2 separate regions of the Homo sapiens genome follow, and region 2 is linked to region 1. The links come from fine-mapping of genetic effects on gene expression. Tissue or cell type: whole blood. Region 1 holds a variant in brackets; the other region holds the start of a gene. All regions are shown on one strand. Distances are between the middles of the regions.

Region 1 (8,071 bases):
TGTTACTGGAGGGTAGAAGATGTGTCAGGCCCCATGTCTCCCACAAGGCTTCTCCCAACCTGCCCAAGCCTCTCCCAGAGCCCCCCTCGGTCTCCAGATCTCTACCTTGTGACTCCCTTCAACCCCCACTTGGTTAAACCTAAGATCTGAGCCCAGAAAGCAGACAGACAGACAGACAGACCTCTTCTCTATGGAGCGGTTTAGGGACTCGGTCCTGTCGATGAGCTGCAGAGGGTGGAGAGAGACACAGGCCTGCAGCAGCCGAGGTAAAGCCCACCCTCCATCTCCCCAGCTACTCCAACCACTAATCCAACCCCCAACCCTTATATCATGGGGGTTCGCTGAGCACCGGGCAATGGGGGGATAGCAGACAAAAGCCAGGCCTGGGCCTGGTCTTCCTGTGGCTGGCATGTGGGATTGGCCTTTTGGGTATGAGTACGGGAGAGGGGAGAAGATGGCAGGCTTTGCAGCTTAACTTACTTTGGTGGTAGGGCTCAGGGGAGGCGAGCTCTGTTCGATGGTCCCCTCCAAGACCAAGGGGCTGGGTGTCCTGGGCTGCTGACATTTCTGGTGCTAGAAAAAAAAAAACAGACATCCCAAGTGACCCCCTGCTTGTGCCCCTCCTGCCCTGCCCAGCACCTGTGGGAACAAATGCTGTTCCTTCCTGAGCCCCAGGTTCTCTGTGGCCCTGACGTGCTCCAGTTCTGGAGCTGGTGGGGAGGGACTGAGGAGTCTGGAGAGATGTCTCCGGATCTTGCAAGAGGATCACTGAGCCTTGCCCTCTCTGAGAATGTGGGCCCAGAAGGGGCTGCAAGGTCTAGGGGTGTGGGGTGCTGACCCACTCTGGGCTAGACCCACAGGGCCCACAGAGTGGTGCAGACAGCCAAGGCAGACTCATCCCTGGGGTGGGGGTACACCCAGACCCTCTGAGGTGGAGCCATCACCTCCTCCTGTTCCTCCTCAGCCCCTGCGGCCCCCAGGTTGTCCTGGACAGTGTCCTCTGGGCCTGGCCCCTCCTTGCTCAGACTCAACTCCTCCAGGTGGACTTCATCACTGTCCTCCTTTTCGTAGGCATGCAGGCCGGGCCTGTGGGTGGAAAGGGAGGCAAAGCCGTTCTAGGGCCATTGGATTGCTTGGTTGACCCCTTCCTTTTTCCAAGCCTCAGTTTCCCCATCTGTAAAATGAAGGTAGTCAGGCTACTTGAGTGCCAAGGGATCTGAGACCCAAGCCCATTGGGAAAGAAGGTCCAGTGGCCTCAGAGCCAGCGCAGTCTGCTTGGGCCCCTGTGTCAGGGCCTGAGGCCCCTGGGGAACTGCCCAGTCCCTGCCAGACAGGGCTCTACAGACTGAGGGTCCCCCAGGCACTGAGGCTGGGTTCAATCCCCAGCTTTGTGGCTGGGCCTCAGCTTGGCAGCTGCTTGCACACCCGGTTGGTCTGACGGGGTCCCCGCGAGGCCGGGCTGCTGGGGCCACCACTCCTGCTCTGCTCCCTGTGGGGGCCCTTGGGTGTTTGGGGGACTGGAGGCTGGGTCATTTGGAGGGCTAGGCAGGGGTAGGGGCCAGGTCACTGAGGAGCAGGGCCAAGGGGCTGCCGGCTGCGGGGGAGGGGAGGCCAGCCAGCTGGCAGCTTTGAGCGGCTCTGCATTTGAGCAGGACTGAACCTGGAGGAGAAGATGGGAAATTCTCGAATTTTCCATGATTTCAGGCCCCTGGGTGTGCGTGCCAGCCAAGACCCAGACCCACCCGCCCAAGGTGGGCAGGGGTCTGAGCCAGCAGCAGCCACACAGAGGGGCCATTCAGGAGCAGGTCTGTGCAGCCAGGCAGGTGCAGGGGGTGGGGTGGCGGCCGCAGAGCTGGGCTCCACGGAAGAGTCAAAGCGCCCCCTGCTGGTGGGAGCAGCCTCGCCCGCCTAGGCCTGAGGCCAAGGGAGAAGGGAGCTGCCCCATCTCAGAAAAGCAGAGCCGCTGACTCCCAAGCACGTAGGGGGGAGACTGAGGCCCAGGGAGGGGGGCGGTGGGCACTGCGCCAGGCCAGGACCAGTGGTTCTTGGGGAGTGGGAGCCTGGTTGTAGGAGGACAAGGGAGCGTCGCTCAGCAACACTGGTCCCTAGAGCTCCAGGCTGGTTTAGGGCCTCAGAGGGGCCAGGAAGGACCCTGACCAGGGAGAACTGTCAGCCCAGCCATGGGCTCTGGTCCCACTCAAGGCAAGGGGGTCCTGAGCAGGGCTGGGGTCCCAGATGGCCCAGGCCCTGCAGGGCGGGTGGGGTCAGCCCCATCATGGCCACAGATGACTGAGAGCGGCAAGGACCCCGAGCAGGGGTAGTGAAGTGGGGCTCGGGAGCAGCCCCTGTTGGGCCTGTTGGGGTTGAGACAGGCACACACATCCCCACATCTGGAAAGTGCGTCCTCCCGGCCGACTCTCCGGCATGCACATCTGGAAATACCTGCTCCCCTCCGTGGGAATGGAGATCAGCCAGCCCCGAGGGAGGAAGGGGCGGCGGCGGGCTCTCAGCCTCCATTACGGAAGCGGCCGCAGCTGTGTGCTGATGTGGCAGCACCCGGCCTGGCCTCGCAGCTGCCTGGATGGGGCCCAGGGGCCCTGGGGAGCCCCAGAATGAGGTTTCCTCGCGGCCCCTCGCCGGCCACCATGCTGTCTCGCCCTCTTCCTCCCTCCCCTCCTGTCTCCCCCTTTCCTGGCCATGGGGGCATTTCAGGCTCTGCTTGGAAAGGGGAGGATGGGGTGGCTGCTCAGGCGCAGGTTGAGGGCCTGAAGGGAGCTCCGCGGTGCCCTGCTCTGCCCAGCGCCCGCCCTCGAGGTCCAGAGGGAGCCCTGCTCTGCCCAGCGCCCGCCCTCGAGGTCCAGAGGGAGCCCTGCTCTGCCCAGCGCCCGCCCTCGAGGCCCTCACTCACCTGTCCTCTTGCTCCCCCTCAGGACTCCTGCACTGGGGGGGCTCTCCGCTGTCCAAGGCGCCCTGCGCCCCCTCGTGCTGCTGCCGCTGCTCTGGCCTCTGGGACCAGTCGCCAAAGCCCTCGTCCTCATCCAGTTCAGGGGCCTCCGAGGGCTTCAGGCTGAGGCTGAGGGTAGCAGGGGGGAGCTTAGGCCTGGGCGGCTGCTGCCTCCTCTGCCCAGGGCCCACACTCACCTCACGGCGCCCGCTCAGGCCCTGGACTCCAAGTGTGGGAGACCCTGTCTGCCACAGAGCTGGCTCTGGGCTGTGTCTCCTGTGGTCAGAATACCTGAGGGCAGGGCT[A/G]TGCCTCCCCCGTCAGTTCTGGGGCAGCCTGAGAACTGTGCTTCCTCCATCAGTCCAGGACTCCTTGAGGCTCAGCAGGGCTATGCCTCCTCCATCAGCCTGGGGCTACCTGAGGGCAGGGCTATGCCTCCCTCATCAGTTTGGGGCTCCCTGAGGGTAAGGCTGTGCCTCTTCGATCAGTGTAGGGCTCCCTGAGGACAGGGCTGTGCCTCCCCTGTCAGCCTGTGGCTCCCTAAGAGCAGGGCTGTGCCTCCCCCATCACTCTGGGACTCGCTAGGGCAGGGCTGGGCCTCCCCCGTCAGCCTGTGGCTCCCTAACAGCAGGGCTGTGCTTCCCCCATCAGTCTGGGGCTCCCTAGGGCAGGGCTGTGCCTCCCCCATCATCCTGGGGCTCCCCAAGGGCTGCCCTGGTCCCCACATGAGGACCCTACATGAGGTCCTCCTAAGCCCCGACTTCTCAGGCCTCCCATGTGGCAGGGGGAGCCCCTGGATAGCTGGGGCCCTTGGTGGGGGTGGCCAAGGGCCTGACTATGGTGACCGCTGAACCCCACTCTGCCCAAGGCTGCTGACTTGGAGAAAATGGAACAAAAGAGGCCAGAAGGAAGGGAAGCATTATTGGAAAAACAGCCCAGCCCAGCCGCGGAGGCCTCCTGGGCCCAAGGAGGAAGCAAGCCAGCCTGGCCGCCAAGTTGGACGTGGCTCTGTGAGTCACTGGCGGGGGAGTCTGGTGGGGGGCTCGGCCAGGCTGCGTGGCTGGGGTCAGAGGCGGTCCGAGCAAGGGCCAGGGCACGGACACAGAGCCTGGGTCAGCGCCCAGGAGGCAGCCAGGTATTGGCAGACCCTCCTCTAGGGCTGTGGCCACCCTCGCCCCAGGAGCACTCACCCACTCCCACGCCTGCTCCTGGGGGCCCTTCCTCGCTCTCATCCTGCACTGGAACCCCCAAGCCCAGGCCCTTGACCTCCCCCTCTGCCCAGGCCCCAGGGTACACGGATAGGGGCTAGAGCCCAGGCACGCGTTATGGGGCTGCTCACAGCATCTCCTGCTTCGGCCGCTCGGGGACATGGCCGCCTCCCTCCTCGTCCTGGGCCTGAAGCTGCCTGTCTCTCTCATGCTGGCATTGCTCGTGGACGGCCTCCTCCTCGTCCTCCACGCTCCACTGAGCAGTGGGCCTAGTGGGGGACACAGAGGGACAGTCACGCCACAGCCGACACAGGTGCTGTTTTGCACCCATTCCTCCCATCTACACAGGCCTTGCTGGGGCCACACGGTGCAGGCAGCCCTGTCCACGAGGTCAGTCCCAGGCCGGCCCTCAGGCCTCACCTTGTCCATCTTTAAATAGAGGCTGCCCACGTGGTCATGAGGTGCCCTCTGGCCCAGGCGAGGGTCCTGGGGCCCTGTGAGGATCTGGGCACCCCTGTGCCCTGTGGGGATGAAGGTGGGACTCCAAGGCCCATTCAAGCCTGAAGAAACTCAAGGACAGGACAAAAGGCCCTCTGTCCCCCTCTCCCAGCCTGCCTCCCTCCCTAAGTAGAACCAGGACCTAGACCCAGGTGACCCTGGAGGGCCCAGGAAGAAGATACTGGAGTCCAGGGAGACTGGCCGCAGCCCACCGCCAGGCGGCACCTCCACCCCACCTGCGGGTGCTCCCTCCTGCACCCCAAAGGCAGGGCGTGTTGGAGAAAGGGGAGGTCGAAGGCTGAGGAAAGGAGGGCCTGAGCACGTCCAGGCAGGACACCTCCTGTCCCACCACCAGCCCCGCTCACAGAAGCTCCGCAGACTCATGGGTCCTGCCTGGGCCTAACCCCATAGCTGGGGGCACCTTACAGGGTCGGCTCACCCAACCCCACCCCATCCTTATTTCAGAGCCCTCTGCGGAGTCTCTCTGAGCTGTTTCTTTTGTTTGTTTGTTTGAGACGGAGTTTCACTCTTGTTGCCCAGGCTGGAGTGCAATGGTGTGATCTGGGCTCACCACAACCTCCGCCTCCTGGGTTCAAGCGATTCTCCTGCCTCAGCCTCCTGAGTAGCTGGGATTACAGGCATGCACCACCATACCCGGCTAATTTTGTATTTTTTAGTAGAGACAGGGTTTCTCCATGTTGGTCAGGCTGGTCCTGAACTCCCGACCTCAGGTGATCCGCCCGCCTCAGCCTCCCAAGGTGGTGGGATTACAGGGATGAGCCACCGCACCCAGCCGATTGAGCCATTTCAAAAATGGGGAAACTGAGGTAAGGGAGTGCTTCTGCCCTCAGAGCCTGAAACCATGGCTTCTTGGGGTCCCACGCGCCCCCCTCAGGGACAGAGGTAGGCACAGGCTGGCCTGGACCTGGGCATCAGAGCCCCGGCCCAGCAGCTCTCAGATGGTCCAGGTCCTGCAGACACCGCAGCCTCAGCTGTCATGGCCCTGCCTCCCATCGCCCTCCTAGAGCCTGAGAGGGGGTCCAGGGTCTCTACACTCCTACAGGGCTTATTATCCCAGACCCAGGGAGGGAGCCCAGGCCAGAACAGGGAGCAGGGCTGGGGTCTCCCCACTGGGGTCTCAGTTCTTCCCGGCCAGTGGCCGCTGCCTGACCCTGCAGCCTGATCCCCACTGGGCCCCAGTCCCCTGGCCAGACAGCCCTGCCAGCGCGTGATCTAATCTCTCCTAGGTCTCCCCTAAGCCTCTCAGACAAAAGCCAGGCCCTTCCACAGGCCCGAGTTCAAGGCCCACTCCCCCCACCGAAGCCACAGGGGACTCCAGCCACGCAAACCCAGCCGCCTGTGCACCCCGCCCCCCGCGCCCCCGAATCCGCCTGCCTGTCCTGCTCCTCAGAAGTGCCTTCAACTCCCGGCCCCCGAGGAAGCCACTTAATTCCCCACACCTGGCTCCCATCATCCGGGCAGATGAGGCCCAGCTTCCCGCTTCTGCCGGCCTCCGCATGGCTGGGGGCTGCTGGGCCTTGTTCCACCTGAGGAGGCAGAGCCTGGGGCGCAGGGGCCCTCGTGCTCACTCACGCCCCAGCCCCTCCACACAGAGGGCGGCGCAGGCTGGGGCAGAGTGTTGAGGAGGTGGAGGGGTTCCATGGAGGGGAAGCCTGGCCATATTGCTCCCCGTGTTCCCATGTCCCAGCCCCTCCATGTGAGCAAGGGCTTAGCTGGGGTGTGTGTCCCTGGGCCTGGGGCATGAGAGGGAGCCCATGCTCCTCCTTGGACCTGGGCTTCCGATGGGTCCAGGGCCCTCACTCCAGCTCCACAGACCCCCTCCACCAAGCCATAGGGGAGGCGGGGCTTGGAAGTACACATTGGCGCAGAGACCCCAGAAGCTCGTGTGCACACGTTTCCTCAGGTCCACCCCTATGGGCAAGCAGTCCGGGCCCCAACAGCCCCACAAAGGCCCTCACTCTGCTCACAGCTCATGCCCAACACATGGAGTGCGGCCGGGCGCAGGACTCCCTAGGCCTGGGGCACACGCAGGTGCACACCCAACTCACACACGTTCTCCACGAGCCCACGCTCCAGCCACACAGGCATACATGCCCGCACCCCATGCACATACAAGTATGCACGTGCTCACACACGGGAACCTTTGACATCCACGTGCGTGTGCAGACAGGCTTGGGAACAAGGGGACCACGTCCCCCTCCAGGGATCCCTTCAGGGTGCCGCAGCCTCACTTTAGTGAGGCAAACGTTGACTGTTTGCCTTGCCATTGCCCCGACAACGGCGGTGCCGGCCCTGGCACGAGGCCCAGGTGTGTACTCTGGGAACATCGTCCCTGCAGAGCTGGGCCCCTGGAGGATCACTCCGACTGAGCTCTCCCTGGCTAGGGGCCTGGGGGACAGAGTAGGGGATGCAGAGTAAGCATCTCCTGGTGTCTCCCCTAAAACCCAGTGCTGGGGAGAAGCCCGGCCAGCCCCTGGCCTCTGACCCAGCAGCCTGAGGACGTGGAGGCCTCTGGGCCCCTTCTACGTCTCCTCCCTTTCCCCTACCCCAGGATATGAGTCATGCGGGCCCCCTCCCCATGACCTCACCCCCTCACTATTCCACAGCTGGGCTCCGTTCTGGGAACTGAAAGGGGGGCAGCTCTCCTGGGGTGGGGTGGGGGCCTCTGGCCTGGGAAAGGCGCCCCCCGGCCAGCGGCCCAGGCCCCTTGGCATGCACCACGGAGCTGTCAGGACTCTGGGATGGCCGACCCCGCCCGTGGCCCTGGCTCAGCCCCGTGCAGCTGCGAGGGATTTGGTGTTCCTGCACAAATGCAATTAGGCGATTTCCTGTGTCTGTTCTGGCTCCGAAGCCCAAGGTTCAGCCCAAGGGGCCAGGCGGTGGGGGGGCTCCATCCACCTCCCACCCCAGCACACCCCCGCACCCTCACAGTCCCAGGCTCCACTTCGGGGCCTGGCCCCCAGCCAGGGACACCAGTATGCACAGAACTCTGACGGATGCCTCGTTCGGAGTGGAGCTCCCCAAGCTCAGGTCTGTTCCTGCCGGCCTCATCCACTGCCAAGCACCCCCCGACTCGGGACGCTGGCCCTTCTTCTCCTTCCTCCACAAACCCCCACCCCCACTTCTACCTCCCAGTCCCCGCTGAGGGCCTGACAATGCCCATCCTCGGCCCAGCACTCCCAGCTACCCACCTCCGTCCTCCCCCTGCAGACACTTGCAGAATGGGTGTCCGGCTCGGTCCCCGTCCCGACTCTGCCCCCTGCAGGCAGCTCCTGTGGCTGCCCCACCCGGCTGTCCTGAGCCCAGAGGGCGGCTGGAGAGGGTCCGTCCTCTCTGGGGTCCTGGGGAGTGAGGAGGCTCTGGTGAAGAGCAAGGGCTGCGGGGAGGATGTCGAGGGGAGGGG
Region 2 (8,071 bases), 38 kb before region 1:
TCTTGGAGCAGCGCTGTGGGGGACCGCGGGCAGGGTTTGGGGGCCAGCTCTGGCCTTGGGTGAGTCCACCTCCTTGGGCCTCCCCTTTCTCCAGGGCTCCTGGCCCCTCCCAGCTCTTGGCGCCCCAGACTCTGTCCCCTCTTCCTGCCCTGGCTCCAGACTGGAGCTTGGAATCTTGGAGCTGGAAGGGATGTTGGAAGGTCGTGGCGTCCACCCCCACCCAGGGCAGACATCCTCTCCGTGGCGTCCCCTGAGGAGGGTCATCCAGAATGCAGGCCGTGTGCCGTCCAGCCCGCTCTAGACACTGGAAAGGTCCCGCTGATGGAGCTGAAACCTGTCTCTGGGTGTTCTCTGCCCAGTGGGTGTAGGTGGGGTCTCCCTGGGAGCCCCTGGATGACCGAGACTGGCTCCCCAAGATGAGTAATCTGCTCACCCTACCATTCCCCATGAGAACCCCTCTTCCCTATTTGAGCCCAAAGCTCCCTTCTGTGCCTGTTTTCCTATGGGGTGCCCAGAGTGTGTCCCACCACACCCCTCTGAGGACCCCTCCTCCAAGATCACAGAGCAGGGAAGCTGTTCCTTCTTGTTACCCCTGTACCCTGAAAACATTGAGGCTGAGCCCCAGAGCACGTTGGGTTGGGTCTGGGCCGCTTCCCGTGCACCCCCCCGGGCCGGGCTCTGTACAAGGCATACTTGGACTGCAGGAGCCCACAGAACAGCCCCCCCATTTCCCTCCCTGTGGCCGCTTTCCCTGGTCCCGGGGATGCTCTGGATCTGTCCCTGTCTAGGGGAAGCTCCATGCCCAGGACTGGCTGCCCTGTCCATGTGCGGTGGTGGCGCCAGGCCAGCATGCTGGGGACCGTCTCTCTGTGAGCTGGCCACCGTGCACACTGGGCGGCCAGGCCTGGGGAGGCTCTGAGCAGCTGCACCGGCATGTTGGCCAGGGTTTTAGAAAACAAAGTTCATTACAACACAGTACAGATTACTCGAAGACAATAGCTACGGTCCCCCCTGGGAGTGTTGTATAAGGAAAACACACGTTCATCAGCTAAAAATGCATCTACGTTGCACTGCTGAGGTGGGAACCGTTTTCCAAACCCTCTGTCAAGAATGTTAATTTTCCCAGAGCAACTTAAGCTCCATGCAAAATTACCCAGCAGATAGCTGTCTTCCAGGCAACGGGGGTAGCTTTTTCCTATCCCAGAATCTCTTCCTGAGACTCTGCTGCCCCTCAGGTTAAGCCTCTTGTAACTGCCACGGCTGGGCCAGGCTCTCCTCAGTCCTCAGCCCCACGAGCCAGTGTTGTCCAGGCCCCCGGTGTGACCCAGTCCCAGGCTGCCCACCAGCCCCTCGTGCTGTCCTCCCAGCTGGTTCAGGCCCCAAACGCCACAGACTCCTCTAGGGCCATCCTCTGTAAGGAGGAGGAGGGTCAGTGAAGGGAGGGAGCGGAGCCTGGCCCCGCCCTGCTGTGCCCAGCCCGACGCTGGCGGGGCAGACACCTGTCGGCTGCCACAAGATGGGGGCAGCGTGGCCCTCGCCTGGGGTGGGTTATTTATAAGGAGCCAGTGGCAGCTGAGGTGTCCAGAAATAGGCAAGACGTTTCTGCCCAGAAACCCAAGACGTGGGTGAGGCGGGTGTGACAGCCCAGCCCTCCTTGGCCCACAGCTGCCCCCTCACCCTCGGGCACCCAGGCCCTCCCCAGCTCCTCATATTTCCCTCCTGTCCCCCCAGGCCAGAGTCACATGGGTGCCCCAACACCCTCAGGCAGGGTGACCTCCAGGCCCCCCGACGTGCGCTGGAAAGGCCCACTCTCCAAGTGGGGAAACTGAGGCACCTGGTTTTCTGCTGAGCGCCTGGAAGCAACACAAGGCTGTTCTGTTCCCCCCAGTATGGCCTGTGTCATTGCCTCTGTTGCGGGGAGGGGCTGGTGGCAGGGGTGTGCTGGGGGCAGGGGTGTGCTGGGGGCAGGGGATGGCATTTCAACAGCTGAGACGCAAAGCAGGTGTCCAGTTAGTGCCTGCCTTGGAGGGGCTGCGTGAAAATAACCTATGCGGTCAGTTTCTTCGGGCACGTATGCATCACCTTTCCCTCCTTGGGAGGTGACGGGGCCAGGGCAGGGTGGGGAGGCAAAAGCCGCTGCCCCTTGCTTGCTGTGGCCCTGACCATGCCCCCAGACCTGTTCTCCACCCAGCCAACCTTTGCTTTGCCCCATGTCCCTCCGTGGACTTCAGGAGGGGCAGCCAAGGCCTGATCAGACGGCACAAGTCAGGGGGACCGTGTCCAGGGCAGGGAGGGTGGGTGGGGGCTCTTACGAGCGCCAGCTTCTCCAGCCTCCAGCCAGGGGGACGCGATGAAGCCCAGCCCCTCACTCTTGCCCCGTCCTGCCCCAGTCCAGCCCCTGTCCACTTCTGTCCTGCACCTCCAGACGCTGGCCCCCAAGGCTGCGTGGGCTTTAGACGCCCCCACCCCAACACACTCGGGCTGGCCATACAGGAGCCCCTGCCCTCCTGTCCTCGTTTTCATCTCTACAAAATGGCGGTGTTGGAGGCCCAGGTGCGAGAGCTGCATGGCAAGGCCAGGACGGGCCTGGGCAAATGTCTGCATGGCGACCACAAGCTGGCAACCTAAGCCCTGGCAGCACCCCTGCACAGCCTCTTCCCTGCCGCTCACAGCCCGCACCTCTCTGCCTCCTGCCCTCAGGCCACTCCCTAGCACTGAGCTTCCCTGAGCCCCGACTTGCCCCCTCCTGGCCTCCCACACTCTGCCTTCTTCTGCATCCTCCCGGTGCTGAGACCATCACACCACCATGTCCGCATCCCAGACTCTCCGGACGCTGGAGCAGCCACCTGGGGGCTCCGAGCCATGATGCTTCGAGATGCTCGGCACCACACGGACCTGGGACCTCAGCGCCCCAGGACCCCAGAGTGTCCCTGGAACGAGGGGCTGTCCACCCGCACGCAGGAGGCCCCGTCGGCCCCAGTCCTGGGTGGCCGCTCCTGCCTATACCCACCTGCGGGTCGAGTGTGAGAAGGGCTGGAGCTCCCTGTGGACAGCACCGGCTGCAGGCACTGGCGCCCGGCTCACACCCTCGTGTTATAGTGACATTTGATCTTCCTAGGAGCCCATTGGCCAGTGACTGGGTGGCCGGGGTGTGTGCGGAGTCTTGCTGGGGGGGGCTATGCCCGTGCAGGCCCCTTACCAAGTATAGGAATGGCCAGAGGAGGAGGCTGAAGGAGGCCAGGATGCAGAGGACGTGCTTGGAGAAGGAGGCAAGGTCCTCCCTCCGCCTCCAGGAGGTGTCAGCTGCTATTTTTACTCCCAGCAGCGGGTACATTCTGGATGGGCTGAGGAGGGAGGAGGAAGGTGTTGGGTGGCCCCGGGGCACCAAGCCGAGGCTCTCTTTGGGCCAAACTAGTGTGGGGGTCCCCAGAGCCAGGCTGCCGGGTTTCCCACCCCCCCGCCCCTTCTCTCTGAGATGTTCTGTGGGAGTAAACATTTGTCCAGGAAAAGGGTCCGCACAGCCGGGGTCCCCTCCCGCCGCCCGGCCCAATGCCCCAGGCCCTTCGCTGTCTCCCCCGGGGAGGAAGCAGCCTGAGGCCTCGGAGACCCCCCATGGAACTGAGGCCAGGCCCCCACCCTATCTGAGACCCTCTTAGAGGCCAGCTCTGCTTTCCTGGCTAGACACCGTTGGGGCCTACACAATAAGCGGGCGAGGGACATGGCCAGGCTGGCTGCAGTCCGAGTCTGCCATACCTCCCCCCGGGGCTGCTGCCATTGCAGGGGGCTACACATGGAGTTTGCTGGGTAAGGGTCTGGGTCCTCCCTCTAGGCCCTTTCTAACCCTGGGGCCCCACCCTGGGCACTCGCAGTGGCCGTTACCATCTGTGCCAGCATCTCCCACAGGCTCATTGTGGCGTGTGGAGACTGGTTTTCTTTCCTCAGGACTCCAGGTGGCACCGTCCGACTAGCAGACATCCTTCCTGGCCTCTGATGGCCTGTATGCTGGCCAGTGAGGCCACCAGATTGGATAACCCTGCCTCTTGGATCAGGGAAACTGAGGCACCAGGTGGGGGAGAGCAGTCTGGCACCCTGACCCACCCCCTCACTCCCCTCAGACCCCACAGGCTGAGCGTGGGCGGTGGTGTCTGCGGAACTCTTCGGTTCAGGCACAGATTGGTTCCTTCTTGGCCAGCGCCCAGGACAGGGGTGAGTCCCGAGAGGCACAGATGAGGTCCCTGTCCTCCCCAGGCTTAGAGTCAGGGACAACAGGATAACCCGGCAGGGGCTCACAGTGCCCTGGGGCCGGGTCGGGGGCCTTCCGGAAGGCTGTGGTTGGCACCTCATTCCACCCCTCCATGGAAGAGCGAGGCCGCAGAGCCCAGGGACAGGCAAGGTGTGCCTGGGGTCACACGACAAGGCGGGCTGGCCCCAGGCTGCCATTTCAAAGGACAGGGCCGGTCCCCTGCCTGCCTCCCGCTGAGTGCCCGGCACTGGGAAGGCTCTTGGAGCTGGGGTTGCTGGGAACGTCGCCGTCCTCCTGCTCTGGGTCTGTGGCTTCGTCTGCATTCCACGCCTTCCCCTCCCTGTCCATGTCCTCGATGGGCAAGGCTTTGGGGGCCACAAACAGCCCTGGCCCCTGGATATCTGTGACCAGCTTCCTGCCCACTGGGGACATCTGCAGAACTGCTCCCTCAGAGGCACGTGAGCGGGTCCCTGGGGGTCAGCGGGCCCACCCCATCCTCTCCCATGGTGGGGCCAACCTCCTTTTCCAGGCTCGCTCTGCCGGCTTCTCTAACGGAGCCCTGAGCCCACCATTCTGGTTACACGTGGTTCAGTCTGCAGGCCTAGGAAGCCTGTGCCCACCCAAGCCCTCACCCAGGCCAGGGGTCCTGAGGGGCGCACCTGAAGGTGGGTGTGCCATAACCCTGCACTGGCCCCGTGTGGCCAGCAGGGGAAGGTGCTGCCCGCCCAGCTCCTGGAGCTTTGGCAGGCGCTCTCCGCCCAGCCAGCTGAGGTCAGAGGGATAGGGCAGGTTTTATTTTGGGTATCGGCGACCTCCCCCTCGGGCGCTGGGCCTGAGGCGTAGCAGGGACTGCACAGAGCAGGCACCAGCGGCCTCGAGGGCCTGCACCAGGTAACCCATGCCCTGCTGCCATCTGGCCGGACCGGGATGGTCCAAGGAGAGGAGGCAGGGCAGGGGCCTCCTGGGGGACTGTAGACCTGGGTGGGGGCAGGGCACAAGGGAGGCCCAGCCTGGGTTGGGGACGCATTTCCACCCAGGAGGAGTCTGAGGACGGACCACGGGGCCTTGGCTCTAGGGCAGTTGTTGGGGGATGGGGGGGTTCTGAAATTGGCAAATGCTGAGCCAAGCCCAGGGAGTGGGGAGCAGGCTGTGGGAGGGAGGATGGCCTCCTGAGTGTCTTGGCTGCAGCTCCCTGCCTGGGTGGCCCCCAGATGGTGGCCGGGGCCCCTCAATCTAGGTCCCAGCACCCAGTGCGCATGGTTGGGGGTGGTGGAGACCAAGAGGGTCCTGAGCCTCTCCTCATGCCCTGAGCTGACCTGAGCCCCCAGGCTGGATCCAGCCTGAGGCCGCTCGGCCCAGCTGTGGGCTCAATCACTGCCAGGCCCAGGACAGGAGCAGCTGACACAGCACTTGGGAACTGAGCTGCTCCAGCCCTAGGTAGCTGCCTCCCCACATGCCTAGTGCTTCTGATTTTGCAGTTTCATTGACTCGTTCTGCAGATATGATGGGTGTCTTCTCTGTGGCTGGCCTAGGGGCTTGTAGCAAGGGTCACAGGGTGTCTGGTGGCTGCTCTGGCAGGCAGGACAGAGGCTAGGGGCTTCATCTGCCATCCCTGGCCAGGGGCCTCTTAGGCTGCAGGCCTTTTGAGCCTCCTGACCTCCGCATTGGGCATGGCCTGACCTCCAGGTTTCCAGGAGCAGGGGCATGGGGTTGCTGTGGCCGTGGACGGGAGGCTGCATCAGAAACACAGCAGGGCTGTGGCTGGGTAGAGCTCAGAGGGACAGGCCCTGGGTCCTTGTTCTCGAGGCTGAGCCGAGGGGTGCAGATGATCTGACAAGGGGCCAGGGCTGGTCGGGGGCGGGGTGGGCAGTGGCTGCCTCCTCAGCACTGCTGACCCCAACTACCCCCTGCCCCTGGTGCTGTCCACTCTGCACCCCAGTGCTGAGTGCCCAACTGTGGCCTTTGGGCCTGCCTCTCGGCTGCCCTTGGTCACCGTCCCAAGCGGATCAGGTGGGAAACAAGGGGAGTGCTGTCACTGGGTGGTTCCCCAGCTGGGGAGGGTGGCCTGGATCCTCTCTCAGTGGCTGGGGCATCTGAGAAAGGATGGGGGCACGTCACCTCCCTTGTGTGGGTGGTGGCTCTGTCGAGGTTTTGCTTTTCTGAACTGTGTGTATTCATGAGGCAAGCAGGGTTTGACATGAAGCCTTCAGAAAATAGTGGCTGTGAGGACCCAAGGGAATGGCAAAGTGAAGTCCAGAACATCAGAGTCTGGGGTGCTGCTCCTCGAAGGGACTTCCCAGACGCTGAAGGCTGCAGGGCTGAGTGTCAGGGCCCAGTGCAAGACCTGGGAGAGGAGGGACAGGAGGGAGGGTGTCCCCAGGCTGTCTGCTATTTCACACAGTTGTCCATTCATCCACCCATCTATTCATTCCCATGCATTCACTCTCACCTTCACCACTTCCTTTCCTTCCTTCCTCCCTCCTTCTCTTCCATCATCCATCCCTCCGTCTGTCCATCCTTTCAACCACCCATACAATCACCTACCCATCCACTCATCCCTCCATTTCATCTATCCCTCCCGCCATCCATCCATCCATCCATCATTAGTCTATCCATCCATTCATCCACCCACCTATCCATCTATCTACCCATCCATCTACCTGTCTATCCATCCATCCATCCATCTCTTCATCTATCCATCTACCCATTCATGCATCCATCCATCCCTCCCTCCCTCCCTTCATCCACCCTCCCTTCATCCATCCATCCCTCCCTCCATCCATCCATCCACACATCCACTCATCACCCCAACACACACACCTCCCCACAACACACACACACACAGAAACATCACCCCCCCAAAACACACACACATAACATCACCCCCCACAACACACACACACAGAAACATCACCCCGCACACACACACATACAAATAATATCCCCCCCAACACATGCACACACAGAAACATCACCCCCCACAACACACACACACACAGAAACATCCCAGGTGTGTGACCCCACAACACACACAAAGAAACATCATCTGAGGTGTGTGACCCCACAACACATACACACACACGCAGAAACATCATCCCAGGTGCGTGACCGCACAACATACACACACAGACACACACACACAGAAACATCATCCCACGTGTGTGACCCCACAACACACAGACACACACATACAGAAACATCATCTCAGATGTCCTATCCCACAACACACACACAGAGAATAACATCATCCCCAGGGATGTGATCCCAGAACACACACACATAGCAATATCATCCCTAAGTGTGTACACCCCACAAGACACACACACACACAGAGAAACATCATCCCAGTTGTGTGGCCCCAGAACACACACACACACACACACACACACAGAAACATCATCCCAGGTGTGTGACCCCACAAAACACACAGACACAGAGAAACATCCCAGGTGTGTGACCCCATAACACATACACACACACACTCACAAACATCATCCGTGTGTCCCCACAACACACACACAGAGAAATATCATCCCCAGGTTTGTACACCCAACACACACATACACAAACATCATCCCCAGGTGTGTGACCTCACAACACACACACAGACACACACAGAGCAACATCATCCCAGGTGTGTGACCTCACAACACACACACACACACACACACACACAGAAACATCTCCAGGTTTGTACACCCACAACACACACAGAGCAACATCTCCCCAGGTGTGTACACCCCACAACCCACACACACAAAGACACAGAAACATCCCAGGTGTGTGACCCCACAACACACACACAGAGCAACATCATCCCCAGGTGTG

The links. PIP is the estimated chance that this variant, and not a neighbour inherited with it, causes the effect.
Region 2: it holds the start of TNNT3, and the variant in region 1 is fine-mapped to the expression of TNNT3 in whole blood (Lepik 2017, PIP 0.95).

What each region holds. Positions count from the first base shown.
Region 1 is chr11:1,876,434-1,884,504 of GRCh38, reverse strand. LSP1 (lymphocyte specific protein 1) reads right to left here. Exons shown (of 11, transcript NM_002339.3): 2 at 4,281-4,418; 3 at 2,909-3,073; 4 at 945-1,086; 5 at 481-573; 6 at 182-225; 7 at 1-5. It overlaps MIR7847 (microRNA 7847), which reads right to left and starts at 4,460; the gene lies at 4,358-4,460. RefSeq lists enhancers at 2,276-2,485, 7,165-8,061, 8,062-8,071. The variant A/G (reference allele first, on the strand shown) is at 3,250.
Region 2 is chr11:1,914,702-1,922,772 of GRCh38, reverse strand. TNNT3 (troponin T3, fast skeletal type) reads right to left here and starts at 3,070. Exons shown (of 16, transcript NM_006757.4): 1 at 3,011-3,070. It also overlaps a transcript of PRR33 not described here. RefSeq lists an enhancer at 5,703-5,752 and a silencer at 6,303-6,352.